2 separate regions of the Homo sapiens genome follow, and region 2 is linked to region 1. The links come from fine-mapping of genetic effects on gene expression. A gene starts in region 1. The other region holds a variant in brackets. All regions are shown on one strand. Distances are from middle to middle.

What was found. PIP is the estimated chance that this variant, and not a neighbour inherited with it, causes the effect.
Region 2: its variant is fine-mapped to the expression of CCNJ in NK cells (Gilchrist 2021, PIP 0.95).

The regions. Positions count from the first base shown.
Region 1 is chr10:96,033,178-96,049,564 of GRCh38, forward strand. It overlaps CCNJ (cyclin J), which reads left to right and starts at 10,406. Exons shown (of 6, transcript NM_001134375.2): 1 at 10,406-10,542; 2 at 11,176-11,285. The coding sequence starts at 11,217. The region is part of intron 2 of ENTPD1-AS1 (ENTPD1 antisense RNA 1); the gene reads right to left. CC2D2B (coiled-coil and C2 domain containing 2B) reads left to right here. Exons shown (of 35, transcript NM_001349008.3): 35 at 1-568. RefSeq lists silencers at 9,795-9,989, 10,117-10,686.
Region 2 is chr10:96,655,106-96,671,492 of GRCh38, forward strand. PIK3AP1 (phosphoinositide-3-kinase adaptor protein 1) reads right to left here. Exons shown (of 17, transcript NM_152309.3): 3 at 1,693-1,829. Among named protein-coding and RNA genes, the nearest start is that of PIK3AP1, 57 kb to the right of the region's middle. RefSeq lists enhancers at 2,848-2,907, 9,585-9,654 and a silencer at 11,765-11,834. The variant C/T (reference allele first, on the strand shown) is at 9,912.

The DNA of each region.
Region 1 (16,387 bases):
CACAAGCAGAGAGCAGAGACCCCAAATGTATCTGCAGGGAATACCCAATCTGTATCTGTTTCCTAAATGTGCATGGGCTGGTGCCAGAAAAGGCCTCACTTATTTGTGGTGATGTTAGTCTTGGACCAAGCTTGAGATTACTAGAAGAGGCAAAGTAGGGACATGGGTGAAGGAATGTTTTTTTCTCCCAGGTTAAAACCTAACTGTATGTGTCTTGTGGCATGCATAAGAAAACTGATCAGAATTTTTACTTTTATTTGAATGTTTTTGTTTAAATTTAATGTGAAGTTTTATTATTAAACAAGTCCCCCACTTTGATTGATTTAGCACAAAATGATGCTGATGGAAAGATGAGGATGCCAAAGACAGACTGAATTCATGCAACTCATTTCTGTACAGCTTTGAATATTTACATAGCTATTTTATTTGTTGTTCAGGGTTTTTAGAATTGATAGACTGCTTAAGAGTAGGGTAGCAAGTGTTCATAGGAAAGCATGGAGGACCTTTTTATATTGTATCCTTTTTACATGAGTGTTACTTTTTCAATTAAATTTTTTCCTGAAAATCATGAAATTATCTGTAATGAATCTTTTTTTCATGAAAACATTTGAAAAATACATGATTTTAAGTGGAATGTATAATTGCAAAGTTCTTTATATCATTCCATAAATAATTACAGGGCATCCATTACATGCCAGATACTGTGTATTATCTATTTAATAATGTGCTGGAGCACAGTGGTGAAAAGACAAAGACTCTACCAGTGTGAGTCTTACATTTTTAAAGGGGAAACAAACCACAGCAAGTAAGTGAGAAGATTTCAGGGTGTGATGAGTGCTCTAAAGGAAACAAATAGGATGGGATGATAGAGAAGGACTTTGGTGGGGATGAAGGGTATAAGCAGAGCAGTCAGGGAAGGCCTAAGGAGATAACATTTAAGCTGATATTTTAAAAATGATTTAACATTAGAATTGCATTCAGTTGCGTGTAACAGAAACCTAACCACAGTAGCTTAACCAAATAGGGATTATTTTTCACATGTCTCCAAGTCCAGAGGAGGCAGTCCAAGTTTGGTGCAAGAGGCCTACTAACTTCATCCAATTTCTTTGCGATCTCTAAAGAGACTTCTATTTTCTAGCCCAGTGGCTTTCAAATTTCAGCAGGTATAAAAATCACCTGAAGGGCTTGTTGAAACACAGATTGCTGGGCCCCACCCCCAGGGTTTCTGATTCAGAAATTATCAGGGTGATGCCTGATAATTTGCACATGTAAGTTCCCTGGTGATGCTGAGACGGCTGATCTGGGGACCACACTTTGAGAACCTCAGTTCTAGCTTCACAACCATTTTCATGGCTTAAAAATGTAGAAAAGGAAGGGGAAGACAGACGATGCCAACTGGTTCCATTCTTTTAAGAAAGCTTGCCAAGAAGCCATGCCAGTAACTTCTACTTATATCCCTTTGGCCAGAACTGTATCACTCCTAGCCATAAGGGAGCCTGGGAGATCAAGTATTTTAAATGGACATATTGCTCTCCCAACTAAAGTCAGTATCCTATTGGTAAGGAAGGAGGAGAGGGTGGCTGTTGGGTAGGCAAATCAGAGTCTGCCACAGATGAGAGGAAGCCAGTCATGCAAAGACCAGTGGCAAAAAGCATTTGAGGTAGAGGGAACTGCAACTGTGAAGTCCTTCTGTCCAAAAAGAGACTTGCCTGGGGAAGGGAGAGTAGTAGCACATAAGTCTGGAGAGGTAGATAGGACCAGATCACGTAGGTCTTGGTAAAGAGTTTGGATTTTATTTACAGTGCAACAGGAAATCATTGAAAAGTTTTAAGCAACTGAATAAAATAATATTTTTCTTTTTTATATTTGAAATTACTTTAAAAACTATTTTTTACAGATACTCATTATTTTATATAAGTGCATAAATGTCATCATGTTTTTTGAAATGCAGGTTTTTTCTTTTTTTCGCTTGAGTCTCTGTCCACTGCTCTCCTCTCCCCACCCACATTGTTCACTTCTTCTACCTTCTTACCAACCATGTTGCATGTATCCTTTCACTTCACCAACATTCTCAAATATTCATATGCCAACACACACACACATGCACATATATGCATCTGTTACTGTCTTAGAAAAATGAGATGACATATGTTTTTCTGCATATTGTTTTTTTCCTTCAAAAATAGTAAAACACCTCCAAGTGAACTATTCATGTTTCCTAAAGGATGCATAACATTCTACAGTGTGGGCAGGACCACTGCATACACTTAAGGAGGTTATGCACCACATGACTCGAAAGTTTATGTGCAAGGACCCCTAGAGTTGTGTAGTATGTAGAAACCTTGGTTGTAAATGTTATTTATTACAGCTTATTCAAACCATTCCCCTACTGATGGGAATTTCTTTTAGTCCATTTGGTTGACATGTTGTTTATTTTTCCTATATCCTTGCTACTTTTGTGTCTATGAGTTCTATTACTGAAAGAGGAGTGTTGAAGTTACCAACTGTAATTATAAGTTTCTCTATGTCTTTTTTTTTGAGAAGGAGTCTCATTCTGCCACTCAGGTTGGAGTTCAGTGGCACAATCTCAACTCACTGCAACCTCCACCTCCAAGGTTTAAGCGATTCTCCTGCCTCAGCCTCCTGAGTAGCTGGGATTACAGGCGCCTGCCACAATGCCTGGCTGATTTTTGTACTTTTAGTAGAGATGAGGTTTCACCATGTTGGCCAGGGAGTTTATTTCTTCTTTCAGTTTTGTTAGTTTTTGTTTAATGTATTTTAAGTTCTATTGTTAGATGGACACACATTTAGGATTTATGTCTCCTTAATGAATTAACTCTTTTATCATTATACAATGTCCCTCTTTAGTCTCAGTAATTTTCTTTGCTCTGAAGTCTGTTTTGTCTGATGTTAATGTAGCTACTCCAGCTTTCTTTTGATTAGGGTTTGTGTGGTATACATATTTTCATTTTTTTATTTTTAACATACCTATATAATTATAGTTGAAATGAGTTTCTTGTAGACAGCATATACCTGAGTTACGGTTTTTGTTTTGTTTTGAGATGAAGTCTCGCTCTGTCGCCAGGCTGGAGTGCAGTGGTGCAATTTCGGCTCACTGCAACCTCCGACTCCTGGGTTCAAGCAATTCTCCTGCCTCAGCCTCCCAAGTACCTGGGATTACAGGTGTGCACCACCATGCCCAGCTGATTTTTTGTATTTTTAGTAGAGCTGGGGTTTCACCATGTTGACCAGGATGGTCTTGATCTCCTGACCTCATGATCTGCCCACCTCAGGCTCCCAAAGTGCTGGGATTACAGGCGTGAGCCACCATGCCTGGCCTATGATATTTTTTATACCCTCTGATAATCTTTTTTAATTGGTGTGTTTAGACAATTTACACTTAATGTAATTGTTGGTATGTTTGGACTTAGGTCTATCATTTCATTATTTGCATTTCATTTGCTCTGTTTCAGTTCCACTGTTTCCTCTTTCCTGCTTTCTCAGGTTATTTGAACATTTCTTAGTATTTCATTTTAATGTATCTATTATATTTTTGACTATATGTTTTTGTATATATTTTTTAAGTTTTTCTAGGGATTATCCTAATACACATTTAACTTTTCACAGCCTACACAGAATCTACTTTTTACCACTTTTAAGTGGAATGTAGAAATCTTACCACATATTCTTTTGTACTTCTGCCTTTATGGTATAATTGTCTAATATATTGTATCTGTTGAAGTATATGCTGAAAACACTAGAAGACAATGTTCACATTTTTGCTTTTAACCATCAAATGTATTTTAAAGAACTCAAGTGGAAAAGAATGTTTACCCAAACATTTATCACTCTGTTGTTCTTCCTTCATTCCTGATGTGCTAAGTTTCCTTCTGGTATTATTTCCCTTCTGTTTAAAAAATGTCCTTTAGCAATTCTTTTAGAGCAGGTTTACTGACAACAAGTCTTTGTTTTCTTTCATCTTCAAATGTCTTTAATTTCATTTCTGAATGATATTTTTGCAGGATTAGAATTCTGGGCCTGACAGTTCTTTTCTCTCAGGACTTAAAAACAAATTTCAACCTTTATTTTAGATTAAGGGGGCATATGTGTAGGTTTGTTACATGGATATATTGAATGATGCTGAGGTTGCAGATATGAATGAGCCCATCACTCAGGTAGTGAGGATAGTAACCAACAGTTAGTTTTTCAGTCCTTCCCCCCTTCTCTCCCTCCCTGCTCTAGTAGTACCCAGTGTCTATTGTTGCCATCTTTATGTCCATGAGTACCCAATGTTTTGCTCCCACTTGTGAGAATGTGATATTTGATTTTCTGTTCCTGCATTAATTCACTTAGGATAATGGTCTCCAGCTACAACCATGTTGCTGCAGAGGACATGATTTCATTCTTTTCTGTGGCACCTCAGCATTTAAAAAATTTTGTTCTATTTCTCTCTGGTCTTCTTGGTTTCTGGTGAGAGACCCACCATACGTTGAATTTTTCATTCTTCCCCTATAAGTAATGTTTTGTTTCTCTCTGGTTGTTTTCAATTTTTTTCTCTAGTTTTTTAGAAGGGTTTTTTGTGTGTGTGTTTGTTTTTGAGACAGAGTCTTGCTCTGTCACCCAGGATGGAGTGCAATGGCTTAATCTTGGCTCACTGCAACCTCCACCTCCTACGTTCCAGCAGTTCTTCTGCCTCAGCCTCCCAAGTAGCTGGGATAACAGGTGCACCTCACCACGCCCAGCTAATTTTTGTATTTTTAGTAGAGATGGGGTTTCACCATGTTGTCCAGGCTGGTCTCAAACTCCTGGCCTCAAGTGATCCACTCACCTTGGTCTCCCAAAGTGCTGGTATTACAGGTTTGAGCGACTGTGCCCAGCCTAGTTTTTAGCAGTTTTATTATGTGTGTGGGTATAGATTTCTTTGGGTTTATCCTTGTTAGCATCACCTGAGTTTCTGAATCTGTTTTTGTCTTTTCTCAAATTAGAGGAATTTTCAGCCATTATTCTCCCAAATATTTCTGTACCATATTCTTTCTCCTTTCCTTCAGAGACTCCAATGACATAAGCATTAGACCACTGGGTATTATCCCACAGGTCTCCAAGTCTCTGTTCATTTGTTTCCAACTTTTTTTCAGGTTGTACTATTTCTATTGATCTACCTTGAAGTTCACTGACTACTCTGACATCTCCATTCTCCTAATGAGCCCATCCCATGAGTGTTTTTAAGTTTTGTTTTTTTCTATCTTTTTAGTTATAAATTTTCCATCTAATTTCTTCTTTATGTATTCTATTTATTTGCTGAAACTTCTTATCTTTCCATTCATTTCAAGAAAGTTTTCTCTTCTTGGAGCATTACTATAATAGCTATTTTAAAGTCTTGTCAAATAATTCTCTGTCATCTTAGTGTTAGTGTTTGTTGATTGTCTTTCCCATGAGAATTGAGATTTGTTTTTGTTCTTCATAGGCTGAGTAATTTGGGTTGTATCCAGGGCAATTTGAATATGCTGTATGTTAGGAGATCTACGTCTTACTTAAATCTTTTGGAGAATGTTGATGTTTTTTGTTGTAGCCGGGAACCAATCTGGTTGAGTTCAGGCTGCAAGTTCTGGCTAGCCTTTTGTGGGTTGTGGTTTCGATGTCAGGTCCATTTTCAAAGTCTTTCTGTGCTACTCAGATCTGTCACATATGTGTGCTGCTTAGTGGCCAGCCACTGCTCTGGGCAGTTCTGAGTTTTTAGTCTTTTCAGAGTGGATCTATGTATGCACAACTCAGAGGTAAGCCCAGTTGTTCATAAGCACTTTGTGGGATCATTTTCCAAAGCTGCTCCTCCCTCTCCACAGTCTCCCCAGTACTTTTCAGTTCCCTGGGCCTCCCTTTTTCAGTTCTCCAGCCATAAAGCTGTGGTTTTTAGTTACACCTCTTTGCCCACACTTCCCATTATTGTACCTCCATCCAGAGTAAGGCAGTGGGAAGACAAAGGAAAACAAACAACCACAGCTGTTCTGATCAGATAAGAGGCTTTCCTTTCCTAAGTTTTCGGCACCTGTTGGCCCCTATTACCACTGTTGTGGCTACCACCAATCTGCTGAAGAATGCCTGGGGGCTACAGCAGGAGAGAGAGAAAAGAAAGAAAAAATAAATAAATGGGAATTGCCTCACTCTGATCATTAGGAGACTCCTTTGCTGTTCCTTATAACAAAAGGGATTCTCCTAGGGCTCTCCCTTTCTGTGCCCTGGTGCCCATTTCTAGATTTCAGGCTTCCTGAATCCAAGCTGGGGAATCCTGGAGGAAGAAGGGGTAACTCACCACCAGTTTGGTGATATTTCAAATTAAGGTCTTCCTCCCCACTTGCCTGCTACTATTTACTTTACATTGTCTTCAAATAGCTGCTCATGCAGTCTGTCCAGATTTTATAGTTACATTCGGTGGGAGAGACAGGGTGAAGCTGGCTTAATCCATTGTGTTAGGGTTCTCCAGAGAAACAGAACCAACAGAATGTGCATGTGCATATGTGTGTATTTACCTATCTATCTGCATATATATGTGTGTATATGCATATACACAGAGATACAGATATATAAACTAAGGAATTATATCTATATCTATAGTTATATATCTATATCTTACATGATCATAAAGGCTGAGGAGTCCCAAGATCTGCTGTCAGGAGCTGGAGACCAGGAGAGTTGACAGGTAATTCCAGTCTGAAAACCGGCAGGCTCAAGATGCAAGAAGAGCTGATGTTTCAGTTTGAGTCTGAAGGCCAGGAAAGACCTATGTCCCAGCTCAAATAAGTTGGGCAGCAGGAATTCTCTCTTCCTCGACAAAGGGTCAATCTTTTTATTCTATTCAGGCCTTAAACTGATTGGATGAGGACCACTCACATTAGGGAGGGCAATCCACTTTACTTACTCCATGATTCAAATGTTTATCACATCCAAAAACACTCTCACAGACACACCCAGAATAATATTTGACCAAATATCTGGCACCCAATCTTGGCCCAGTCAAGTTGACACATAAAATTAACTGTCACATTCATCTTATCCAGAAATAGAATCTTATATAGCATTTTAAAATTTGGAATATTTTTCATAAATTACAGATTACAAATATCTGTGATTACAAATACCTGGAACTAATTTTTTATAAAGTAGACTTAAAAACTATCCTTAACATTGTTCAATATGCTAAAACAGTTTGGAAATGTGATCTAGGAACTCTTGACTATCAAGCTCAGATGTGATTTACCTTTTTATGACCACTCCAACTACTAGGTGATGAATATTTTCAAGAAGGACAGGAGCAGTTGCAATAAGACCAGTTAAGAGACTACTGTACAAGTGTAACTGAGAGATGGTGGATATGAATAGTAGTTGCAATGAGTTGAATACTACAAATAGCAACAAATCAAGAACAGAGAACCAGAGCCCAGGGCTGTTGGCTTCCAGGCCTTTGCATCCAGTAGAATATGCTGCTGCCATTAAAAGGAATCCTGGATGTCCTGTTATGGAATGTTCGCCGGAATATTCTGTATGACAAAATCTAGGTACACAACAGAGCATGTAACATACTACCATTTGTACATAAAATGAGGCAAGGGAGTTTCATATATATATATATATATATATATATATATATACATGGTTATAAATACCTGGATATCCCTGGAAGGCTACAAAAGAAAAGAGTAATGGTGTCACCTCTGGAAAAAACTGGGACCAGGGAGGGAAAGAAACTTGCTAGTCACTGTATAGTCTTCTATGGCTTGAAATCTTCTAGCTTTTTCATGCATTCATTTAAAAAACTTAAACAATTAAAAAATCAGTGCTTTTCCACGGCGTAAAGTTCTGTGAGTTACAGAAGATTTCCAGAGAATCTGGTCCCACCTCATCTCTTGTCAAATCTACCTGTGCCTTATGCTGCAGTCACAAAGGACTCTGCAGTTTCCCTATTCTGCCCTTTATATAGATGTTCTGCCTTTTTTACTTCCATTCTTTCATACCATTGGTGATCAGTGCTTCCTTGACTTAGAACGTCTTTCCTATCTCCTCTTCACTCCAGACATACAGTGGCCTCTATTTTCATTCCAAACATGCCTTCACTTTAGAGTCTTTGCGTGTACCAATTCCCTCGGCCTGGAATGCTCAGCCACCTGATACGTACCTACTCTCTCACTTCCCTCAGGCCTTTGCATGCCTTACCTTATCATGAAACAAAGTCCACCCATTTCTTTTTTTTTTTTTTTTTTCCGAGACACAGTCTGGCTCTGTCACCCAGGCTGGAGTATAGTGGCGCGATCTCGGCTCACTGCAACCACCGCCTCCCGGGCTCAAGCAATTCTTCTGCCTCAGCCTACCGAGTAGCTGGGATTATAGGCGCCCACCACCACACCTGGCTAATTTTTGTATTTTTAGTAGATACGGGGTTTCACCATGTTGGCCAGGCTGTTCTCGAACTCTCGACCTTAGGTAATCTGCTGGCCTCAGCCTCCCAAAGTGATGGGATTACAGGCATGAGCCACCACACCCAGCCCACCCATGGTCACTTTCTAGCCTTTTTTTCTGTTTATTTTTCTTCACATCACTTGTCACCATGTGATATGTTTTTTTGTTGTTGTTCATTGTATCTCTATTTCTAGTGGAATAAAAACTCTATGAGAGCAGAGACTTTAGGAGTTAAGTAAATACCTTAACTGTGTCCACCTTGCTCTAAAGGAATTAAATAAATCATAGTAAGTTTGAACTTTGCATTTTAAGGATTTACTATCTAAGACACACTATGGCAAAATATATGTGTAAAATGAACATTAATCCATAAAAGGAAATGGACATTGAAGTCTTCTCATCACAAGGCAAGTCCAGAAAACAATAATGATTTCTGAACAAATATATCCCAGTGAACAATATTTTCAAAGTAGAAGCGATAAATACAGTCTACTTCTTATACTAATGATTATAGTCTGTGCCCCATTTTTCTGAAAGTGTTCTTAAATAGGCCCTGGACAGTTATTTAGAAGCCAAATTATTATAAAGTTGTTTAATAGTCATGAAATGGAACCCAAGGATGTAGACACTATTTAAATGCCATTAAAAATGGCATGAAGCTTTTAGCCTGATGTGTCTACCTTCACTCTAGAGGACCCTGCAACTGAGAGACAGGCCAGGGCAGCCTTCTCCCTGGACTATGTCGGGTTAGGCCGGGATCTGCCAACTTCAGCTTCTGAGTTTCCCTTTTCTTGCCTTTGGTTCCTGCGGGCCTGCTCTCCTGGGTATAAGCATCGTCTATGGATAGGGTACGGCTCATATACATGTCTGCTGATGATCTTCAAATGAAGATGCCACCCAGAATCACATAAAATGTATTTATCACTTTGTAGTAGTTCTTTATCATCATGTATCTTTTTGGACAAAGGATTCAAAGTAAAAGGGGTGAAGTTTTAAAAATATTTACGTTTTACTATTAAGAGATTGATCTCCAGTCTCAGAAAAGTGGACAGTCTCACTGTCCTAGGGTTACCATCCACCTCTTTTGTGATAATCCACCAAAGAGGTTAAAATACAATTGATTAGGTTTCCTCTAATCACATTTCAGCCCCCATATCACCTCAATTGACGTCGGAGTGTTCTCACAGTTTTGCAGTTTCCTGATTTACGAGCACAGATGGTTAATTACATCCACCATGGGTTTGACAAGCAAGGTTACTAGAAGTAATCTTAAATGTCTTCATTCAAAGCTCTTGGGAATCCCTACAGCAACGAAAATAAGGAGGGGGAAGAGATTAATTAGGTTTCTAGAAGAAAGGTGGAGTTTGAGGTGGAACTTAAAAAAAGAGCATAATTTCACAGGAAAAAAAAAACGCTTCAGGGGCTGCAGAAACAGCTAAAGCACATTTGGAGGGCCTGATGATCCACGGAGCAGCCCCTGGGATGGAAGCGGTTGGTGCAACGTGAAGTAAGGTAAACCGAATCCATGCCGTGAAGACTTTTAAACGCCAAACTGAGGCGTCGGAACTTTGCTCCGCGGGCATCGAGGAGCCATCGAAGGTTCTCAGCAGGTGAGTGGCCTAACTGGATTGGTCACTGCAGTGATCCACCTTACAATTTCTCCGGCGCTCTCTGCCGACCTCAGCCGGCGATCAGGCCGGCTTCGCAGTAGGTGGCGGCTGAGCGCCCCGGCAACCGAAGCGCCAGGCCAGCCCAGGCCACGCCGCGCCGTGCGGGATGCTGACCGTACCCAGGCGGGAGCCGCCGCGCCGCCGCCTGGCGCTGCACCTGGGCCCGGCCCGGCCGCCAATTGGACGGCTCGGGGCGACCCCGCTGTATCGCGAGACGAGATTGGCAGCGGCGGGGCCTCAAGTGCCCCCGCGCTGGCTTTGTATGCGGAGCCGCCTGCCGGTCCTTTAACAATGGGCGGCGCGAGCGTCCAGGCGCTGGGCTCTAGCTGAGGCCGGCGCTTAGCGGCCCACTGTCCGCAGCATGAGCGGGGCCGGCGTCCGCCGCACGACGGCGGGGCTGGGGCTGTGAGGGCCGCGGTTCCGGGTAAGGGAGCCAGCGTGGGGCCGGGCGGCCCGGCAGGCCTGGGGTAGGCGTGGGGCAGCGGACCCTCCCGGGGTGAGGCGCAGAGCCTGGCTGGCCCGGCCTTTTGTTCCCCTTTCTGAGGCCGCGCGGAACGTGCGTTTCTCGGGGCTCCCGGGGAGGAGCAGGCTCCCGACGTCCATGCGGAGACCCGCGGCCAGGCAGACGCTCACCCCCGGGCTTTGCCATGGGAGCGTTTCCCCTCAGCGGGGCTATGAGCGTGTCACCTCTCCCCGCTCCTCAGGGAGGGCGGGAGAACTCCAGCCCCGGACGCAGGGAGCCCCAGCCGGGCCTCCCCCAGCTCTTCCCGAGCTCGCACCTGGCTCCGCGCTTTGGCAACTCAGGGCCCGAGTGGATCCCCTTTTGCCCGACACATAGTCGAGCAGTGAGTCTCAGAGTCCTTCGGCTCTTCCTGCGGGGGCAGACCCGGCTTCGCGTGTGGCGTTGGGGGAAACGACTCGGGTCGGGCTGGGTTGAGGAAGAGTCAAGTGAAGATGAGCAGCCACACCGGGTGGCCTGAGGTCACACCCCCCGGGGAGGGGGCGCAGAGGGTCGCGGGGGAGCCGGCAGTGACCGCGCCTGGGGTGTGTCTTACAGACTCGAGTTGCCGCGTCGGGCTGGGCGCGCCGCCGGGTCCCATGGAGCTGGAGGGGCAGTGGTGGCGAGGACAGCTGGCCGCCGATATTCACCAAGCGCTTCGCTACAAGGTAACTCCGAGGCCCGGCCTGCCTTCTCCTTCTGTGTGTCGCGCCAGTTGTTCTGAATCTCGGCTCTCTAGAAGGTCTAGTCAGGTTCTTTACTCACTATCTTCCGGGCCAGAAAAGGCGAGTTTGCTCATTTGCTCAAGGTTAATTAACTTCTTGGCTCCTTCTCTGGGATGTATCAAAAGAACCTGCAACCTGAATGAGTAGGGAGATGGTAGTTGGGCCAGGGAAGGTGGAAAGGGGCGTTCTGGCTTCCAGGTGGGTCATGAATTTGATCTTGTATTTTAAAAGATATATACACTGAATTTTTGTTGGGCAGAACAGCCCTCTTTGTTCGAGAGTTGCCGTTGCATGCAGCCAGTTTAAGTCGCTTTTGTACATAAATTCCTCAGCCTTTCCGCTAACTTGCCGTGAGACGTGGACAAGTGAAATTTCTGTTTCTTGATTTCCTCATCTGTAAAATGAGGAATAATGAGTGTGCCTTATGATTCTGGCGATTGTGAAACTTAAGTTAGTACCGTACATGTGCTTAGAAACTGCTCTTGGTATATAGTAAGCACTAAGTGATAACTTCTTATCACTTACCCCTCAGGATTTGGGCTGTTCAAAAGCCCTAAAGTGGAGGGAGTTGGCTGCCCCTTCCTGCTGATATCAAAGGCAGAAAGTAGACTTAATAGATATTGGAAAAAAATACTTTTCCAACACAAAGCAAAGTCTGTGTATTGTTGCTATTAAGTAACGGTTTTACTCTGCATGTGGCAAGGCAGATTAATGAGACATTTCTGCCTCTTCGATAACCAAAAGAGAGACCAGATCCAAAATGATCTCTAGCTTAACTCAGTTTCACCTTGGATAAAGAAAGCCATTTGTTAAATGTAGAAAATTGAGAAAGAAGCAAAACAGCTGACTTTCAATAAAAAGGATTCTGACTCTTGGGGTTGAGATCCTGGAATGATAATGAACTTTTATCTTGAGTTTCTGACCAGGTCAAGTAGATTGGAAAACCTAATTCTGACTTAAATTGTTACCCTTTTCTAGGCCTGAGATTTCTAAATGCTACTTAACTAATTCTGACATTCAGTCTCTTAGATTCACTAAAATACAGTTCAGCCCCCTAGGAGATGGTTTATACCACATAAAAATTCTAACTAATGGGATCTCTGGAGTGTTAGTTAGGAAAGAGTTGCAGTTTCTTGGAAAATTGTCCAGATACACTTTTGATCTTTTTTTTTTTTGGCAGATGTCATCTTTCAATGTGAAATGTTTTCTTTTTTAAAAAAATTAATATAGTTGCACATATTTTGAAAAGTGTTTTAAGTGTCAGCCTTTTTATCCCTCTGGTATGTAGTGAAATTAATTAGTTGATATTAAGAGTACTTTTTTTTTGAGTTGGAGTTTCACCTGACCTCAGGTGATCCACCTGCCTCGGCCTCCTAAAGTGCTGGGATTACAGGCATGAGCCACTGCGCCCAGCCAAGAGTATATTTTTTAATTGGCATGAAACTTAAAAGGTTTTTCTTGGTGATTTCCATACTTTTCAATCATTTTATGTGTAGATCATTTTAATTCGTGAGTGATTATCTGCATTTTGTCAATTGAGTTTGGACATGGGTTCTTTGTTTTTTTGTTTTTTCTCCTAGATTTAGATTTGTTGAAGGCTTTTGTGGATTAGTTTCTGGAGCATCCAAGGCATAAGACCCAACCTTATACTCACTCAAGTTGCTTATGAACTATCAGAGGACAAGGTAGCACAGGGTGTGAAGGAATGCCACTGAAAGTTTTATTGGGCCACCTATGGCCTACTGCCCTGGGTTGTCTTTATGTTTAAGCATTATGCAAACCATGGTTCTTACTGGCAACACTTTATACAAGAATTTACATTAATCTGTAAAACTTAAACTTGTGGAACTGGAGAGACCACTGTTTGTAATACACTGAAGGAAACTTAAAATGGACTTTTCTCCTAGAAAAGACGTGGTAATTCCAGGCTATTAATTGGTGATTCAGTCGGATAGTCATCTGTTTTTCTTCAACATGTTGATCATTTATGACATACATGATATCATGCCAGGTGTTAGAGCAATAACAGTGAACGAGACATGATCCTTGCCTTCATAGTCTAACCTTATCTATAATTTAGAGCATCCACATTTAGGTCTTCCTTTGGGCAGTTGCCATTGAGATACTGCAGAAGGTATTCTATGTTTAGGCCCTAGGTTTGTGGAGAAATATTTGGTGTGACTAGCATTGTGTTTACTAGGGAAGAGTGAAAATGACAATGAATGGAAATCATGCCAACTATCCACTCCCTCAAAAAACCCCTACAAAGCAGCTGTCACCTTACACCCTTTTGTCTCCTTTCTTCTCATTATTTTGCTGTGTATAGTTAGTGTCATAGGCTGTTTGGGAAAGTGTTTTTAGGAGCCTTAATGACAAATGGGAACAATTCTAGCTTTGTGAGAAACATTAAGAAAGTGAAGTCCATCAGTGTTTTCCAGGTGTTTCCAGGGAGTCTTTAAGACCATGTTCAGGCCACTTTTTGGGAAAACCTGCTCTGGTTTTGCCTTTTTTCCCCAACTCCCTAATCCCTGAGCTAAGTTAGATTTTCTTCCTAGGTGTTGCCATAATAACCTGTGGTGACTATATTGTGTGATAAGCTCTGTATTTGATTCACCTGCTAGAGATAGGCTTGAGACTGTTTTTCCAGCTTTTATGCCTGGGTTAGTATAGTGTCTGCTGCATGGGAGATGCTCAATAAATGTCACATGGTGGCAGCAAAGGTAAAGTTGCAACTCACTTACACCATTGTAAAGATCCAAAGAAAGAGTTAAGGAGAAAAGAAAAATCCTAGGAACTACATGAGAAATCGGCATCTTCCCTTTATGTGGAAAAAAAAAATTTTTTTGGCCAGGCATGGTGGCTCACACCTGTAATCTCAACACTTTGGGAGGCTGAAAGCAGGTGGATCACTTGAGTCCATGAGCTGGAGACCAGCCTGGGCAACATAGCGAGACCCTGTTGTACAGAAACTAACTGGGCGTGGCAGTGAGCGCTTGTAGTCCCAGCTACTCCAGAGGTTGAGGTGGTTGGATTGCTTGAGCCTGGGAGGTGGAGGGTGCAGTGAGCCAAGATGGCACCACTGTACTCCAGCCTGGGCTACAGGAAACCCTGTCTCAAAAAACAACAATTGATGTATTCTTTGGCTACACTACTAAATTACATTGACTATTTTATCCATTTATCTTAGGTAATATTAAGTTAGGTGAATATATAACTTCCCTTTTTTGTTTATCGTAAAATGTATCAACATAAAACTTTTTTTCCCCAACTTTTAAGTTCAGGGGTACGTGTGCAGGATGTGCAGGTTTGTTACATAGGTAAACGTTTGCCATGGTGGCTTACTGCACAGATCATCCCATCACCTAGGTATTAATCCCAGCATCCACTAGCTATTCTTCCTGATCCTCTTCCTCCTCCCACCCCCACCCTCCGACAGGCCCCAGTGTGTGTTGTTCCCCGCAACATGTGTCCATGTGTTCTCATCATTTAGCTCCCACTTATAAGTGAGAACATGTGGTATTTGGTTTTCTTTTCCTGCATTAGTTTGCTAAGGATAATGGCCTCCAGCTCCATCCATCTCTCTGCAAAGGACGTGATCTTGTTCCTTTTCATGGCTGCACAGTATTCCATGGTCTGTATGTACCACATTTTATCCAGTCTATCATTGATGGGCATTTAGGTTGATTCCATGTCTTTGCTCTTGTGAATAGTGCTTCAGTGAACATACACATGCATGTGTCTTTATAGTAGAATGATTTATATTCCTTTGGTTATATACCCAGTAATGAGATTGCTAGGTAAAAGGGTATTTCTGCCTCTAGGTCTTTGAGGAATCACCACACTGTCTTCCACAATGGTTGAACTAATTTACACTCCCACCAACAGTGTAAAAGCGTTCCTTTTTCTCCACAACCTTGCCAGCAGCTGTCATAACATAAAACTTACCATTCTAACCATTTTTAACTGTACAGTTCAGTGACATTAGGTACATTTGCATTGTTGTCACCACTATCTATCTTTAGAACTTTTTCATCTTCCCAAACTGAAACTCCATACCCATTGAACGATTACTCCCCAATTTCCCACCCTCTAGCTTCTGATAACCACTATTCTACTTTGTCCCTGTAAATAGGACTATTCTAGGTAACTCATTAAGTGGAATCATACAATAAATGTTCTTTCATGACTTTTTTCATTTAGCATACTGTCTCCAAGGTTCAACCATGTAGTATATTATAAGAATTTTCTAAGGCTGAATAATACTCCATGTATATACCACATTTTGTTTATCCATTCATCTGCTGGTGGGCATTTGCATTGTTTCCACCTTTTGGTTATTGTGAGTAATCCTGTTTTGAACATGTGTGTACAAATCTCTCTTCAAGTCCCTGCTTTCAGTTCTTTTGAGTATGTACCTAAACGTGGAATTGCTGGATCATGTGGTAACTCTGTTTAATTTATTGAGGGATTGCCATACTGTTATCTGTAACAACTACATCATTTTACATTCCCACCAGGAATGCACAAGGATTCCAGTTTCTCCACATTCAAGCTAACACTTATGATTATCTGGTTTTGTTTTGTTTTGTTTTGTTTTTTGATAATAGCAATCCAACTAGGTGTGAAGTGCTGTTAGTGGTTTTGATTTGCATTTCCTAATAATTAGTGATGCTGAACAAACATCTTTTTCATGTTTTATGATATTTTTTGGGCATTTGTGTGTATCTTCTTTGGAGAAATGTCTATTCAAATCCTTTGCCCATTTTTATAATTAGGTTTTTTGGTTGTTATCCAGTTGTATAAGTTATTTATATAATCTAGCTATTTACCCCTTATCAGATATGATTATAAATACTTTCATCCATTCTGCGGGTTGCCCTTTTACTCTGTTGATAGCATCTTTTGTTAAACAAAAGTTTTTAATTTTGTTAAAGTCCCATTTCTCTTTTCTTTTTCTTTTTCTTTTTTTTTTTTTTTTTTGCAGGGTAGGGGAAGTTCTGCTTTTGGTATCGTATCCCTGTTACTTCTTCTATTGTGATACCTGT
Region 2 (16,387 bases), 620 kb after region 1:
TCTCAAACTCCTGAGCTCAAGGGATCCACCCGCCTCGGCCTCCCAAAGTCTTGGGATTACAGGTGTAAGCCATTGTGCCCAGCCAATGCCTAACTTTTAAAATACTATGCAGTCTAGACCAGGCATGGTGACACATGTCTGTAATCCCATCATTTTGTGGGGCTGAGGTGAATGGATCACTTGAGGCCAGGAGTTTGAGGCCAACCTGGCCAACATGGAGAAACCTCGTCTCTACTAAAAATACAAAAAAAATTAGCCAGGCATGGTGGTGTGTGCCTGTAATCCCAGCTACTTGGGAGGCTGAGGCACAAGAATTGCTTGAATCTGGGAGGCAGAGGTTGCAGCGAGCTGAGATCTCACCACTACACTCCAGCCTGGATGAGAGAGACAGACTCTGTCTCAAAAAATAAATAAATAAACACTGTGCAGTCCAAACCAAACATGTCTGATATGGTTTGGCTATGTCCCCACCCAAATCTCATCTTGAATTGTAACTCCCACAATTCCCAGTGAGAGGAACCTGGTGGGAGGTGATTGAATTATGGGGGGGCGGGTCTTTCCTGTGCTGTTCTCATGATAGTGAATAAGTTTCATGAGCTCTGATGGTTTTAAAAAGAGGAGTTCCCCTGCACAAGTTATCTCTCTCTTTGCCTGCTGCCATCCATGTAAGACATGCCTTTCCTCCTCCTTGCCTTCTGCTATGATTGTGAGGCCCCCTTAGCCATGTAGAACAGTAAGTCCAATTAAATCTCTTTCTTTTGTAAATTTCCCAGTCTCAGGTATGTCTTTATCAGTAGCGTGAAAACAGACTAATACAATGACTATCAGTTAAATCTGGCCCAAAGAAACAGTTGGCAACCCCACGTAGGAAGTGCTTGCCCAATGCCTCACGGCCTCAGCCTGCACAAAACCACCCACAAGGGTGAGGAAGCCAGTGCTGCCCACTGCCAAGGCTCCCACGCTGTCTCGCCTCAAGGAGCCTGCAAAGCCATCTTAGCAAAGAGCTTGTATCCATAAAGGAAGCATTCTGCTGCTCTGAACTATCATAAATGCCACACGTTTTTAATTAGGAAAGGAAAAATAAAGAAAAACCATCAGTACTAAGGTAGGATTCAAATGGCAGTGGCTCATCAGTTGGGCCCTCACACTCAAGTCATCTGTAATGTATGCCCCACCCCTGAAAATGCTAGTCATATGATGTATGGCATTTATCTGATCCCTTTAAAAAGCAATATTGGCCAGTTGGTTTCAGCCGTCAAGCTTCAAGGCACTTCCTTGGGCCATGGCAGTGGCCAGTGATGGAGAAGCAAGCTGTCAGATGCCCAAGATGCATTTCCTTCCTCCCAGCACTAGGCTACCAGGAAGAGACACAGGCCTCTAACTTTAGGGTTAGCGTTAGTGTCTGGAATGCTCCTGTCTGCTGGTCTCCTAGGTGCTCTACGTTATTACTGATCCATAGAACAGAAGTCTTAGACTGATGACACACATCTCCCTGGGCTAGTCTCTCTCTTACTCAGGGGAGCTGGGTGTCTCCAGGGCCCGGGTAACAGGGTACTCAAAAGAAATCCCAAAGGAAGGCTGCAATTATACTGAGGTGCAATACAAGAAACCACTCTCTTTACTGCAACAAATGCATGCATTTGAAAAGCCCAAGTGCTGACATCCAGCTACCAGGCCCCCAGCAGTGCCTACCCCACAGCGAATGCGGTCCGGCTGCACCACCATCAGGTTCCCAGGTGAAGTCACCGTCGGCAGGTTCTGCTGCTTCGAGTAGGAAACAACCTTCTCGTCCTCAGGCTCAGTGTCAGTGACTGAGTCACAGCCAGAATCTACAAAATAGAGGACACCGCTGAATGGGAACGGCAGGAAGGAGAACTGTGGACATGTTCCACCCCATGAGAGCCCCAAATATTGCAAAATAGGAAACGGCTCTGAATGTCAAACCAATACAAGCAGAAGGGACTGACTCAGGAAATCATGAAAGGCGACCTAATGAAGACAAGCCAAACAGCATGTAGGCCACAGGGCAGAATGACAGCAAGAGGGATGACAATCATGGAGGGGAAGGCCAGAAAGTCTGAGGCTGCAGGTTTAGTCTTAACCAATGGGTTTCCGGAAGCTTTACCTGCAGACTTCCTGCAGGGATGAAGAGGAGTGAGGAAAGGAAGAAGGCCCTTTCCCCTTAGGTGGGTTCAAGTAGGGACTGTCCACTTAAAGGTCATTCTTGGAACATCAAGTAAAACCTGCACTGTCCAGAAAGCCACTAGGTCTCAGGGTTATGGCTAGCCAATGTATCCCCTCTGGAAGCAAAAGTGAAAAGCAATCATTTTCAACAAACTTTAGATAAATCTAACCAGGCTCCACAGGCAACACCTGTACCACGGAAAGATTGGAGCATGCACAGAGTCAGGGCTGGTGAGCAGGGGTGTGCAAATGTGTGTGGTATTGGCACAGAATGAGATGCTGCTGAGAACCTACCAGAGCTCTAAGGCAGGGGCTCTTAACCAGAATCTGTTAATTGATAGACCTACCTCTGAGGTTGTGTGCAAGATTGTGTGTGTGTGTGTGTGTGTGCATGCACATGTGTATGCATTTGCCTGCACTTTTCTGGAGATAGTTCAAAGCATTCATCAGATCCCCAAAGAGGGACAGAATCCCAAAATGGTTAAGAATGGTTGAGAGGGCTGGGCGTGGTGGCCTATAATCCCAGCACTTTGGGAGGCCAAGGAAGGCGGATCACCTGAGGTCAGGAGTTTGAGACTAGCCTGACCAACATGGTGAAACCCCGTCTCTACTAAAAATACAAAATTAGCCAGGTGTGGTGGCACATGCATGTAATCCCAGCTACTTGGGAGGCTGAGGCAGGAGAATCACTTGAACCTGGGAGGCAGAGGTTGCAGTGAGCCAAGATTGCACCACTGCACTCCAGCCTGGGTAACAAGAGTGAAACTCCATCTCAAAAAAAAAAAAAAAAAATAGAATGGTTGAGAGGAGAGAGAAGTTTCATCAGTCTATTTTTGGGGTTTGCTCTTATTCATTCCTTAACCACTTATACAAGCAGCCAAATATGTTAGGTACTTGAGGGAACCCGAGGACGAATCAGACACTAACCCTGCCTTCAGAGAGTCCATCATCTAAAAGGACAGGAGAGGTGAGAAGCAAGGGTTAGTTTGGCTGATTCCTGCAGCCTGGTTTCCTGGAAGAAAATTGGCCTCTGCAGAGTTTGTGGCAACTGTCCTGGTAGAATGCTAGGGTTACGAAACAGCTGCTGATAGGCACCCTGGAAAGCTGTAACCACAGGCTTTCACCCTAGACCCCAGGTCATGCTAGGAAGAGGCTGTGCTTCCACAACCATAAAGGCCGAGTTGGGGGCAGGGCTACAGGGCCTCAGTACCACCGTATCCTATTGCTGTAACTATAAGACCCTGACCCCTGGCCTACTCAGGCCAGCAGAGGGGCCGGGGCTTCTTCCCTAGCCATGCAGCTTAAAATCTCAGTAGCCTAGAGTGGAGGTCCCGTCCCAGAGCCTGGCATCTGACTGCTGAATGTCTATGGGCTGCCCTAGAGAGCAACAGGCAATGAGGCATGTACTCTTGCCACTATTCCCCCTCCATGATTTTTCCCAAGACATGCTACTCCAGAATGCCTGTTTGAATGCTGCCAGATCTTTGTCCTTGTCTGTACGTCAGGCAGAATCTAGTGTTAAGAGGTAGAGCAAAGGACCCAGAGTGTTCTACGCAAGGCGATATGGTTTTTAGCTGGGCATCAGAACCATCGGTCTCCTCCAACTCTCCTTTCTAATTCTCCTGGCTCTCCCCTCAATCCCTGCAAAAACTAACACAGTAGGCTGCCGTTTTCTCTGCTGAATATGCCCTTCCCCACACCCTTCTCTCCTTGACTGATCACTTCTAAAACAGCCAGGGCCCATCACCCTGGACAGAGCTATACATGCCACCCAAGCAACCCTCACTCAGCACAGGAGCTTGTAATGGAAAAAGCCAAAAACATCAGGGACAATTCACACAGTCTTCTTCTTAAGGATTTTATGAAGTTTCAGTTAATTATTATTAGATTCCTGGACATACCATTTAAAAAAATATTTCTGAGGTTCTTCTGGGATGAGAAAGTAATCCCATGGACTTGAAACATTCAGTTACTTAAAATAGAAAGAAGCTCCTTGAAACTATTTCTTGCTCCAGAATTTTTTAGATACTATTCTGAGTGGCCACAGTGGCTGGAGTGGCTCAAACTCTTACCAATTACCTATTCTAGTATATCACACAGGTATAACCTCTTTGGGATGGACCCACAGTGCAGTCTACCATTGTTTCAACAAAGACAAATCCTTTATTTCTCCCAAATTACTGGCCCACTAGTCTATATTTTAAGAAATTTTATGAAACACATTGAAGTGAAAAGTCTACGGTAAGAATTCATATTAAAGTGAGAACTCTGTGCTAAGAAAATCTCAATGCAGCCAGGTGTGGTAGCTCACACCTGTAATCCCAGCACTTTGGGAGGCTGAGGTGGGAGGATCACTTAAGGCCAGGAGTTCAAGACCAGCTTGGGCAACATAGTAAAACTCTGTCTCTACCAAAAAAAAAAAAAACAAAATGCAATTTTAATAGAAAAATATAAAGTATTGAAATTGTCTTTAAAGAAGTAAAAAACCTGACTAAATCAATAACCATGAAAAAAAGTAATAACCATGAAAAAACACTCCTCAGTTTTAAAATAATATTTAGAGTAAAAGCCACACAACCTTCTTTGAATTGAATTTAACATTTTATTTGGGACAATGTTCTTCTTTATAATACTAATTATTTCCTACCCTGGAAAACTCCATTTATATAGGTATTACGTCTTCTAGTAAAGTTTTAAAAAATAATAAAGGATAGTCCTATTTTATATTAAAGTTATTAAAAAACAGAATGGATAGAGCAATTGAATACAAGAGATGGTCCAGAATTAAGGCTTCATTCCCATAAAAACTTAATATGGGATTTTAAAAAGCATTAAAAACCAGTACAGATCTGTTCTGCGAAAGACATTGTCAAAAGAATGCAGAGATAAGCGATCGTCTGGGAGAAAATATTGCAAAAGACATATCTAATAAAATACTTGTACCCAAAATATACAAAGAACTCTTAAAACTCAACAAGCAGAAAACGAAAAGCCTGATTTTAAAAAAGAGCAAAAGACCTGAACAGACACTTCACCAAATAAGACACATGGATGGCAAAGAAGCCATCTGTATATCTTGAAAAGATGGTCCACATCATATGTCATCAGGGAAACGCAAATTAAAACAGCCATGAAATAGCACTACAAATCTATGAGAATGGGCAGAAGCGAGAACACTGACAACACCAAATGCTGGTCAGGAAGTGGAGCAACAAGAACTTGCATCCTTTCCCGAGGTTCTTCTCCTTTTCTGGTAGGAATGCATCCTTTGCTGGCAGGAATGCAAAATGGTACAGCCACTTTGGAAGACAGACTTACAAAACTAAACACAAGCTTACTAAACAATCCAGCAATCATGCTCCTCAGTATTTACCAAAAAGAATTGAAAACTTACAGTCACACAAAAACCTGCACACAAATGTTTATAGCAGCTTTGTTCAAAACAGCCAAAACTTGGAAGTGACCAAGATGTCCTTCAGTAGGTGAATGGATAAAGTGCGGTACACCCAGACAATACAATACTATTCTGCACCAAAAAGAAATGAGCAGGCAAGCCCTGAAATGCCATGGAGAAAACCTGAATGCATATTACTAAGTGAAAGAAGTCACTCTGAGTCAGGCATGGTGGCTCACCCCTGTAATCCCAGCACTTTGGGAGGCCAAGGTAGTTGGATCACCTGAGGTCAGGAGTTCGAGACCAGCCTGGCCAACATGGTGAAACCCTGTTTCTACTGAAAATACAAAAATTAGCCAGCCATGAGGCCGAGAGGCTAATACAAAAATTAGCCTCTCATGAGGCTGAGGCAGGAGAATCACTTGAACCTGGGAGGTGAAGGTTGCAGTGAGCTGAGATTGCGCCACTGCACTTCAGCCTGGGAAACGAGCAAAACTCCATCTAAAAAAAAAAAAGCCAATCTGAAAACACACTGTAGGATTCCAACTATATGACATTCTGGAAAAGGCAGAACTATGGATCACTGATTGCCAGTGGTTAGGAGGAAAGAAAGAATGAATAGGCAGAGCACAGAGGCTTTTTAGGGCAATGAAACTACTCTGTATGATACTATACTGGTGGGTGCATGTTATTAGACATTTGTCCACACCAATAGAGTATACAACAGTAGGTGAATCCTAATATAAACTCTGGCCTTCGGGTGAGTGATAATGATGCATCAATGTAGATTCATCAGTGGTAACAAATGTGCCACTCTGGTGCTGGATGTTGATGGGGGTGGGAGGAGGCTGTGTGTACATAGGGGCAGAGCAGACATGGAACTTTGCATGCTTTCCACTTAATTTTGCTATGAACCTAAAACTGCTCTAAAATATAAAATCTACTCAAAAATATTAGCCAGGCATGGTGGCATGTGCCTGCAGTCCCAGCTACTTGGGAGGCTGAGGTGGGAGGGTCGCTTGAGTCCAGGAAGTGGAGGTTGCAGATTGTGCCACTGCACTCCAGCCTGGGAGACAGAGCGAGACACTGAGAAAAGGAAAGGACAGGATAGGACAGGACAGGACAGGACAGGACAGGACAGGACAGGAAAGGAAAGGGAAAAGGGAAAGGGAAAGGAAAGGGAAAGGAGAGGGGAAAGTGAGGGGTACTATTTAGATTCTTCCTAATTCTTATAACTCCAAAATAAAATTTAGATGGATTAGAGATTAAAATGCAAAATAAATAAACAAATTTTAAAAATTAAAAAGAAAATACATGTGAACATTTTATCAGTGGTTTGGGAAAATATTTGTTAAACAAACAAAAATCACAATCTAAATGAGCAAGACTTGATAATATAAATTTAAAACTTTAGTAAACAAACAAAAAACTAAAATCAAAATGCTGTAGCAGCATCATTCCTAATAGTCAAAAGGTGGAAACAGCCCAAATGTCCATCAACTGATGAATGGATAAACAAAATGAGGTATGTCCATATAATGGAACATTACTCAGCAATAAAGAGAAATAAATTTCAAAACAATATGTTGTTTTATATAAATAGAGACACATTTTCTTATTATAATAGATAAATAAGGCCGGGCGCAGTGGCTCACACCTGTAATCCCTGCACTTTTGGGAGGCCAAGGCGGGTGGATCACCTGAGGTCAGGAGCTCGAGATCAGCCTGGCCAACATGGTGAAACCCTATCTCTACTAAAAATACAAAAAATTAGCCAGGCATGGTGGTGGGCGCCTGTATTCTCAACTACTCAAGAGGCTGAGGCAGGAGAATTGCTTGAACCCAGGAGGCAGAGATTGCAGTGAGCCAAGATCGCGCCACTGCACTCCAGCCTGGGCAACAAGAGGGAAACTCCGGCCGGGCGCGGTGGCTCACGCCTGTAATCCCAGCACTTTGGGAGGCCGAGGCGGGTGGATCATGAGGTCAGGAGATCGAGACCATCCTGGCTAACAAGGTGAAACCCCGTCTCTACTAAAAATACAAAAAAAATTAGCCGGGCGCGGTGGCGGGCGCCTGTAGTCCCAGCTACTCGGGAGGCTGAGGCAGGAGAATGGCGTGAACCGGGGAAGCGGAGCTTGCAGTGAGCCGAGATTGCGCCACTGCAGTCCGCAGTCCCGCCTGGGCGACAGAGCGAGACTCCGTCTCAAAAAAAAAAAAAAAAAAAAAAAAAAAAAGAGGGAAACTCCATCTCAATAAATAAGTAAATTAAATAGATAAATAAAAATGAATGATGTACTGATAAATGCTACAGCATGCATGAATCTTGAAAACATTATGCTAAGTGAAAGAAGATAGTCATAAAAGACCACAAATTATATGATTCCAAATATATGTCCAGGACAGGCAAATCTATAGAGACAGAAAGTAGATTAGTGGTTGCTTTGGGCTGGGGAGATTGGCAGGATTGTGGGACAATAGCTAAGAGGTATGAAATTTCTTTCTGAGGTGATGAAAATATTCTAAAATTGATTGAAAATACTCTAAAATGGATTATGGTGAATATTGCACAAATCTGTGAATATACGAAAAAAACATTGAATTGTACACTTTAAATGGATAAATTGATGGTATGTGAATTATACCTCAACAAAGAAACCAATGGCAGGCTGGGCGCGGTGGCTCATACCTGTAATCCCAACACTTTGGTAGGTTGAGGCAGGTGGATCACCTGAGGTCAGGAGTTCAAGACCAGCCTGGCCAACATGGTGAAACTCCGTCTCTACTAAAAATGCAAAAATTAGCCGGGCATGGTGGTATACGCCTGTAATCCCAGCTTCTCAGGAGGCTGAGGCAGGAGAATCACTTGAACCCAGGAGGCAGAAGTTGCAGTGAGTCGAGATCGCACCACTGTACTCCAGCCTGGGCAACAGAGTGAGACTCCGTCAAAAAAAAAAAAAAAAAAAAAAAAAAAGAAACCCATTGGCAAATCACAAACAGTTTAAAAATTTGAAGTAAAAATGATAAGGGGCTAATCTTCTTAATATACGAAGATGTCACGAAATCTCTTTTAAAATACCCCAAGACCAATAAGAAGACAATTCATAAAAGAAGGAATACAAATTACCTCCCCATTCAAACAAATATCATTCATTCTCACTAGTCATCATGAGAATGCAAATGAAAATACAATGCTGTCTTGCTATTTTAGCTTTTCAAATTAGAAAATGCTGTGAAGTACACCCAATAAACTTTAAACTTTAAACAGTGCAGGGTTTAAAGGTGACTGGAGGACAGATACCCCCCAGCTGCTGAGGGAAGTACAAACTGCACAATCTTTCTGGAAAGCCATGTGTCCACACCCAGAGAAAGAGAAGGCCTTGAAAATGTTCACAGCTTTTGCCACATAATTCTATTTCCAGAAGTCTCTCTTAAGGAGGAAAATAAAAGTCCAAAATAAAGATTCTGAACCAAGAGGCTTTGCATCAGTGAAAAAACTGAAAACAACCTAAAAGACTATTAAAAACATTATTTTCAAAGAGTTCTAAGTGACATGGGTAAAAGCTTACGGCATGCGAAGCGAAAAAGCAGGATATAAAATTATATCTCAGATGCTGCAGGATTTCAATTATATAAAAAATGCATTTTAAAAGGTCAGAAGAAAATGTGTGGCTGGATTCTGCATGCTTCTTTCCTCTCTCCCTCCCTCCTTCCTTCTACCATTTTATGTATTTTAGTATTTTCCATAGTGAGAAAGCATTTCTTTGATAATGGGGGTAGGGTAAGGGAAAAAGTAGCAACTGAATCTATTAGCTAATCATTTTTTAAAAATAGGCACAAAACCAATGCAATCTATTAGCTAATCATTTTTTTAAAATAGGCACAAAACCAATGCAATCTATTAGCTAATAATTTTGCCCAAGAGCCCAGCTTGACACAAATGAGATTGATGCTAATAGTGCGGCACTTGGCAGATATTTCCCAGCATTCAGACAGGCCATACAAAATAAACAATTCCTTCCAGTAGGTCTATTCATTTAGTCACCTTAGATAGCCACCAGCAGCTCACTCATTTCAGGAAGTTAGGCAGGATGTCATTCATTCTGCAGGGTTATTCTGGTGGCGCTGATTGACAAGCCACAGTGGCCTCTTCCACAATGCACTACGGAGAAGGCAGAGTCCCAACAGGGCCAGGGTCCAAGCACTTCAGCAGATTAAAAGTTTCCTTCAAAGGAAATGCCCACTCAGACATAAGCACTGCTCTTACCCACCTGACAGAGTGGGGTGGTCTCAGACCTTCCCACCTGAACATGTAGATCCCTCTTGGACCACTTCC[C/T]GCTTTGAAGATAATACCACCTTTGCTGTCCTGAGACTCGAATAATAATGTTTGAGCGAAGGTACTCTGAAAACCCCAGGGATCCTCCTCAGTGTAAAGTATTATTAAGATGCCAGTAGCATCCTCACTGCTTTAAAATTTCACAATATCCTCTCAGCTTTTATGAAGTCTAGAGAAACTCTGGAGAAATGATTGAAAAAGACTTTCTGTGTGCATCTGGTTCTTCAAAGTGTCATCTATAAAGGATCCATGTAATAAATACTCCTTGAATTCTATGGCAGGAAAAGTCTGTCTCTTCAGAGAACTTGAGTGCTTTCTCTTATCAGATAAAAGGAACGAGCGAACATTGGTATATTTCACCTTTGGCCCTTGCTCGGTGACAAATTTGGTTCTTAGCCTCTTTCACACTCCTGTCCAGGTCCTTGGTCTTGCCTATTTCTCTTTTTTATATTGTGTTTAATTTTTAAGACTGCTTCAAATACTTTGGAGATCCAGTCAGTATATGAGTCACTGTCTCTCAAACCAGTGTCTGGTCTGCAGAAAGTCCTTAGATACGTTCTTTATGAGAATCGGTGTCTGGGCTCTTCATTTAGATCATAATGCCTTTTAAATGGGATGCAAGAACTTTTCAGATTATATGAATGACCACGTTATAAAGGGGGTCCTGCCACAGGAGTCTGAGCCTGTGTTTGTGTCTGCAATCTCTTTGCAGGTAGGTCATGCTATGCTAAATGTCAGAGGTTACTGAGGAAAGAAGGGGGCAGGATGATATGGAAATGAGACATTTGTGCCAACTGAACACAAGGAGATTTTCCTGTACACTACTTTAAATAGAGAAATGTGGTGGGAGATCCAAGCCCCAAAATAACACAGGGGAGACGGAGCAAGACTCCCCACAGATTGGCGAGTACCACAGCCTCCACACAGTGCACAGGACGCTGCCACAATAAACCAGCATCCTCTATGACAAAATGAACGTGGTCGATTTGCATTTTATTTATTTTATACCTGTATTTGTGTCTTGTTCATTTGTTTTGCTTTCGGAGTTGGGACAGAACAATAAACATAAAGAATTAAATATGTATGACTATAGAACATACAAATAAAAAAAGAGTTAAATAGGCCGGGCGAGGTGGCTCATGCCTGTAATCCCAGCACTTTGGGAGGCCGAGGCGGGAGGATCACAAGGTCAGGAGATCGAGACCATCCTGGCTAACATGGTGAAACCCCGTCTCTACTAAAAATACAAAAAATTAGCCGGGCGTGGTAGCAGGCGCCTGTAGTCCCAGCTACTCGGGAGGCTGAGGCAGGAGAATGGCGTGAACCTGGGAGGCGGAGCTTGCAGTGAGCCGAGATCGCACCATTGTACTCCAGCCTGGGCAACAGAGTGAGACTCCATCTCAAACAAACAAACAAAAAAAAGAGTTAAATATGTCTATGCATATTTAAACAACATCAAAATCATTAATTAGTCGACACTAAAGCTTCATAATATTTATTTCCCTTAAGGGGAATCTATACACTATTTGGGTCTGAAAAAAACTATGAATTTTAAATGTAATAAATATATGTATGCATTTGGACCCACAACTAAGCTACATGGAGTAGCTAATGCTAGGTAAGAGCTGGTGACAGTCATTATTATTACTTATAATGATAATGATCAAAGTTCCCATTTGTTAAATATTATGGTGACTGCTCAATAGTCCTAATCTCATTTAATCCTCAGAACAACCCTGTAAAATAGGAATCAATGCTTATTCCCATTTTATAGATGAAAATCCAGTGCCCAGAAGGAATGAAATTACCCAGCCAAGGTCAAGCAGCAGCACGGAGCAGAGGTAGGAATCCACTCCCCACCCCCAGGTGCCACTGCCCTGCCTCCCTTCTAGATGTGGCCCAGGGCAGTGGAAGGTATCACTTCCTATTCCTGGTCTGGGGTTGTGACTCTGAAGTTCATGAGACACAACCTGGAGCTTTTGCTGTCACTGACGCCTAAAGGTGCTGCCTTGTTCCGAGCAATGCTGCCCTGGTTAGGTATGCTGTGACCTGCCACCATGGCAAATGGGCACATTCCAAGGATGGGGTTTAAGTCAAGAAATATTTCATGCCAATGGAACCATCCATGGTCTTCCATGCCCTAGTGGCCTCCAACCCAAGGCTGCACTCTCCCATTTTCCAACTGAGCTTTCACACCACAGTGCTCACTGCCTCTTTTCACTATACAATGTCTGGTACTCAGTTGGCGCTCTGGAAGGGGTGTGGAAAAGAATGACGTTTGCTGATCTTGGAGAATATTTTTCAGAGGACACAAACTACTCTTGTAAGGCAGTATTAAGCCTTGAGAAATGCATAAACAAGCATGGTTCTTAAAAACAACCAGAACTGCCATTTCTTGAGCGGTTACAATATGCTAGGAACTACGCAAAACACAACATAAATGATTTCATTTTATCACAGCAACTACATTGGTATCATTCCACACATTTTACAGCCAAAATCTAAGTACACTGTCCAAGTCACCCAGTGTGTGCTGTAAGGCAACCTGACAACAATTTAACCAAACCCATGCTGTCATCCATCTGCCAGGGTTTCCCATACCATGAGCCATGCACCCTGGTGAGACCAGGATGATTCTAGAGTGTACAGCGTCAAGTTGGATGATAAAGGATTTTTTAAGAAAAAAAAAAATAAAAGTGTACAGCAAACATTCCAAAACACTGAACCACACATTAAGAAAGCAGTCCCCTTTCAAATCTTTCAGTTCCACTTAAATCAAAAAGAAAAGACTTCAACCAGTAAAAGAATGCCTTCAACACCTCTTTACCATGCATTTCTCCTTTTGCGCCATAGAGGGAACAGGGCCTTAAGCCCACAGGCTTCTGTAGGAATCTGTGTACCACAGAATTTAATACCAATGTGTACTTTTTATTATCTATATTTTTATATCTAACTTCTATCTATATCAAGAGATACTGGTTTTTTCATGTAGAGTGGCAAAGTTTCCTTTTAAAATATACTTACTTAGAAAATATGAATTGACTTAAAGAAAATATTAACTTAATAGCACAACGAAAAAATTTTGGAAAGAGTGGTGATGGCTGCGCAACATTGTGAAAGTAATTAATGCCAATGAATTGTATACTTTAAATTGGTTAAAATGACAAATACTCTGTTACCTACATTTTACCACAATTTTTAAAAATTAACCGCATACACCAAAAACTGCTGAGTTGTACACTTAAAATGCATGAATTGTATGGTACATGAATTTAAGAAAATAGTAGCACTATGGTACAAACATAAGCCAAAAACGAGGTTGGTGGTTCTCAAATGACTGAAGTTTGGGAAATGCTGCATTATGCTATTTTGCTTCCATTTTGTTAAACTAATTATTTTTTAGTTTAAATAAGGTAAAGTCAAGGTGGGAAGGCAGGATGAAGGCCTGTAGCATAAACATGCTGGATTCTTTCTCTAAGTTTTAGATACAAGGAAAAAGAAAGTGAGCAGAGAAGGAAACTAAGGAGATAAGTTTCAACTGAGAATTAAGAGCTTGCCACCAATCTACTCAAAAATGGAATTAAACAGAAACAGTCACTGGGGCCAGTCAGGGGAACCTGTGTGTCTCTGTGCTGGGACAAAGTAGGGGGGTATCGTGGTTCATGTCCAAGACTTCCAGTGTGGCTGATGAAAAAAAGACTGAAGAAGATTCAAAGATTTCTTAGAAGGATGCAGATGAGCAACCTAAGTATTGGGGTTCACAGAAGAAAGGGCTGTGTTTCCTCTGCATTTGTATTTTAAGTTGAGGACTCAGATTTAACCACCACACGGGGCCAGGCGCAGTGGCTCACACCTGTAATCCCAGCACTTTGGGAGACCAAGACAGGCAGATCACTTGAGGTCAGGAGTTTGAGACTAGCCTGGCCAACATGGTGAAACCCCATCTCTACTAAAAATATACAAAAATTTGCCAGGCGTGGTGGCACACGCCTGTAATCCCAGCTACTCAGGAGGCTGAGACAGGAGAATTGCTTGAACTCGGGAAGCGGAGGCTGCAGTGAGCTGACATAGAACCACTGCACTCCAGCCTGGGTGACAGAATGAGACTCCATCTCAAAAATAAAATAAAATTTAACCACCACACAAATGGGGCAGGAATATAGAGTTACCCAAGGTCTGGAGAAACTTCCAGAGGCTTGTCCACTCAGGATGAAATTTCTCAGCTGTTACGATGTTCATTCATCCTACCTAAGCCACAGTGATGAAACCACGAAACAGCTATTTTTCAAAGCCCCGAATAAAATGTTCCAAAACCTGAGCTTACTACGAAGTTTCCTAGTCACATAGCAAGTGTCTACGGAACACATCTGCCACGTTCTAGCACTGGCCTGGATCCCACAGGAGAATTCCAGAAGTGTGTCCTGTACAGCTGTGTCCCTTAAGGAGCTTCCAATGAATTGGGAAGATGAGGCCCCACATGAAAAAACAGGGAGGCCGGGCGCGGTGGCTCATACCTGTAATCCAAGTGCTTTGGGAAGCCGAGTCGGGAGGATTGCTTGAGCTCAGGAGTTTGAGACCAGCCTGGGCAGCATTATGAGACGCTGTCTCTACCAAAAATACAAAAAATTAGCTGGGTGTGGTGGTGTGTGCTTGTGGTCCCAGCTAATCAGGAGACGGAGGCTGCAGTGAGCTGAGATCGCACCATTGCACTCCAGCCTGGGTGACAGAGCAAGACCCTGTCTCAAAAAAACACAAAAAACAAACAAAAAAAAAACCAGAGAGAATTATGTGATACCTTATCACCAGGCACCAACTTGTACGATGAGACTATAAATAGAACTAAATTAAGTTAATGTTTCTAAGTGTTTAGAAAAGTGGGACCAGGTGCGGTAGCTCATGCCTGTAATCCCAGCACTTTGGGAGGCCGAGGTGGGCGGATCCTAAGGTCAGGAGTTCGAGACCAGCCTGGCCAATATGGTAAAATCCCGTCTCTACTAAAAATACAAAAATTAGCCGGGCGTGGTGGCACGCGCCTGTAGTCCCAGCTACTCGGGAAGCTGAGGCAGGAGAATAACTTGAACCTGGGAGGTGGAGGTTGCGCCACTGACTCCAGCCTGGGTGACTAAGCAAGACTCCATCAAAAAAAAAAAAAAAAAAAGAGAGAGAGAGAGAGACAGAAAAGTGCTTGCACATGAAAAATTCAGAAGTTGAGAAAAACTTCCTAAGAGATGAAGAAGGCAAGCTCCCCTCGGTCAAATAGCACTGGGATGTTGAACTTACCCTTCTGTGAAAAAGGCATGATATTTTCTATTTAAAGTAATAAAATAATTCATTGTTCATTTCCTTATCCCTTCAACAAATAAATACTCATTATTTATCAATGAATAATAAATATTCAAAGCCTATCCCAGGCTCCCCAAGAAATGGAAGAGTGAGAAAATTTCTGTCCTCACTGGTACTGGAGAGACCACACAGGAGAGCTGGGAGGACTTTTCTGGCAGAGGAAAAGCATGATTAAAGGCACAAAGGCATGAGCGCAAATGATGTGTCTGGGCCACAAGAAACACCTTCTATATGGGGGAAGGGCTGTGTGAGAGGGGAAGGGAGTTTGGGTGTCTGAGAGGACCCTGATTCCCATGCAGGGTGTATATTGGAGACCTGTCAGCAAAATGTATTCAGGAGAAAAGGAAATTCTGTAAAATACAGATTGAAAATGCAGTTTATTTTTCTTAAGTTGAAAACTGTCTTTGCTTGTTTTTGAAATAATTCCAGACATTCAGGCAGAATGTATCAGCTCTTTTGTAAAGTCTGGTCATAACTGAGAACACGAGTGCCTGACCACCCATCCCACCCCGAGCAAGCGCTGCCTCCAGATGCATAAAATAACACAAACGAGTGGCTAACAAAGTGTTACCAAGTCAACATCCTGCCCTATCTGCTTTCAAGAACAAATAAGTTGCTATAATTAACCAATGTCTGAAAAGGTACCACAAGCATGGTTTACAGTATGCTTAGAAAATGATTCTGAAGTAGGCTATAAACATGTCTCTTGTTTACACTGCATTTATCTTGTTTACACTGGCTATTTCCTCAGAAATTCAGCATCACAGCTATTGTCATGTCCTTAGAAAGCACAAAAGGAAACCTCAGACCTGGCCTTGTGTCCAGATTCCCAGTGTGTGGACCCCAGTGAAGGAGCCTTTGCTCTACTGAAAATATTTGTGGGTTCACAGGGTTGGAGGTGAGAGGCTTGCAATGGTGGGACTCAAACCTTAAGTTTCAATAACCCTCACCTTCCCCCACCTTCCTGGCAAACATCAAGACTGCTTTTTCATTTTAGTCATCACCATGGGTCTTTCTTCTTTGCTCACCCACCTTGGTCATTGGGTAGTGAATTTCCCGTCCAACTAACCCCTTTCACTTACAAAGCTCCCAACAGAGAGTGACAGGTATACCCAACCCACAAGTCACCAGCT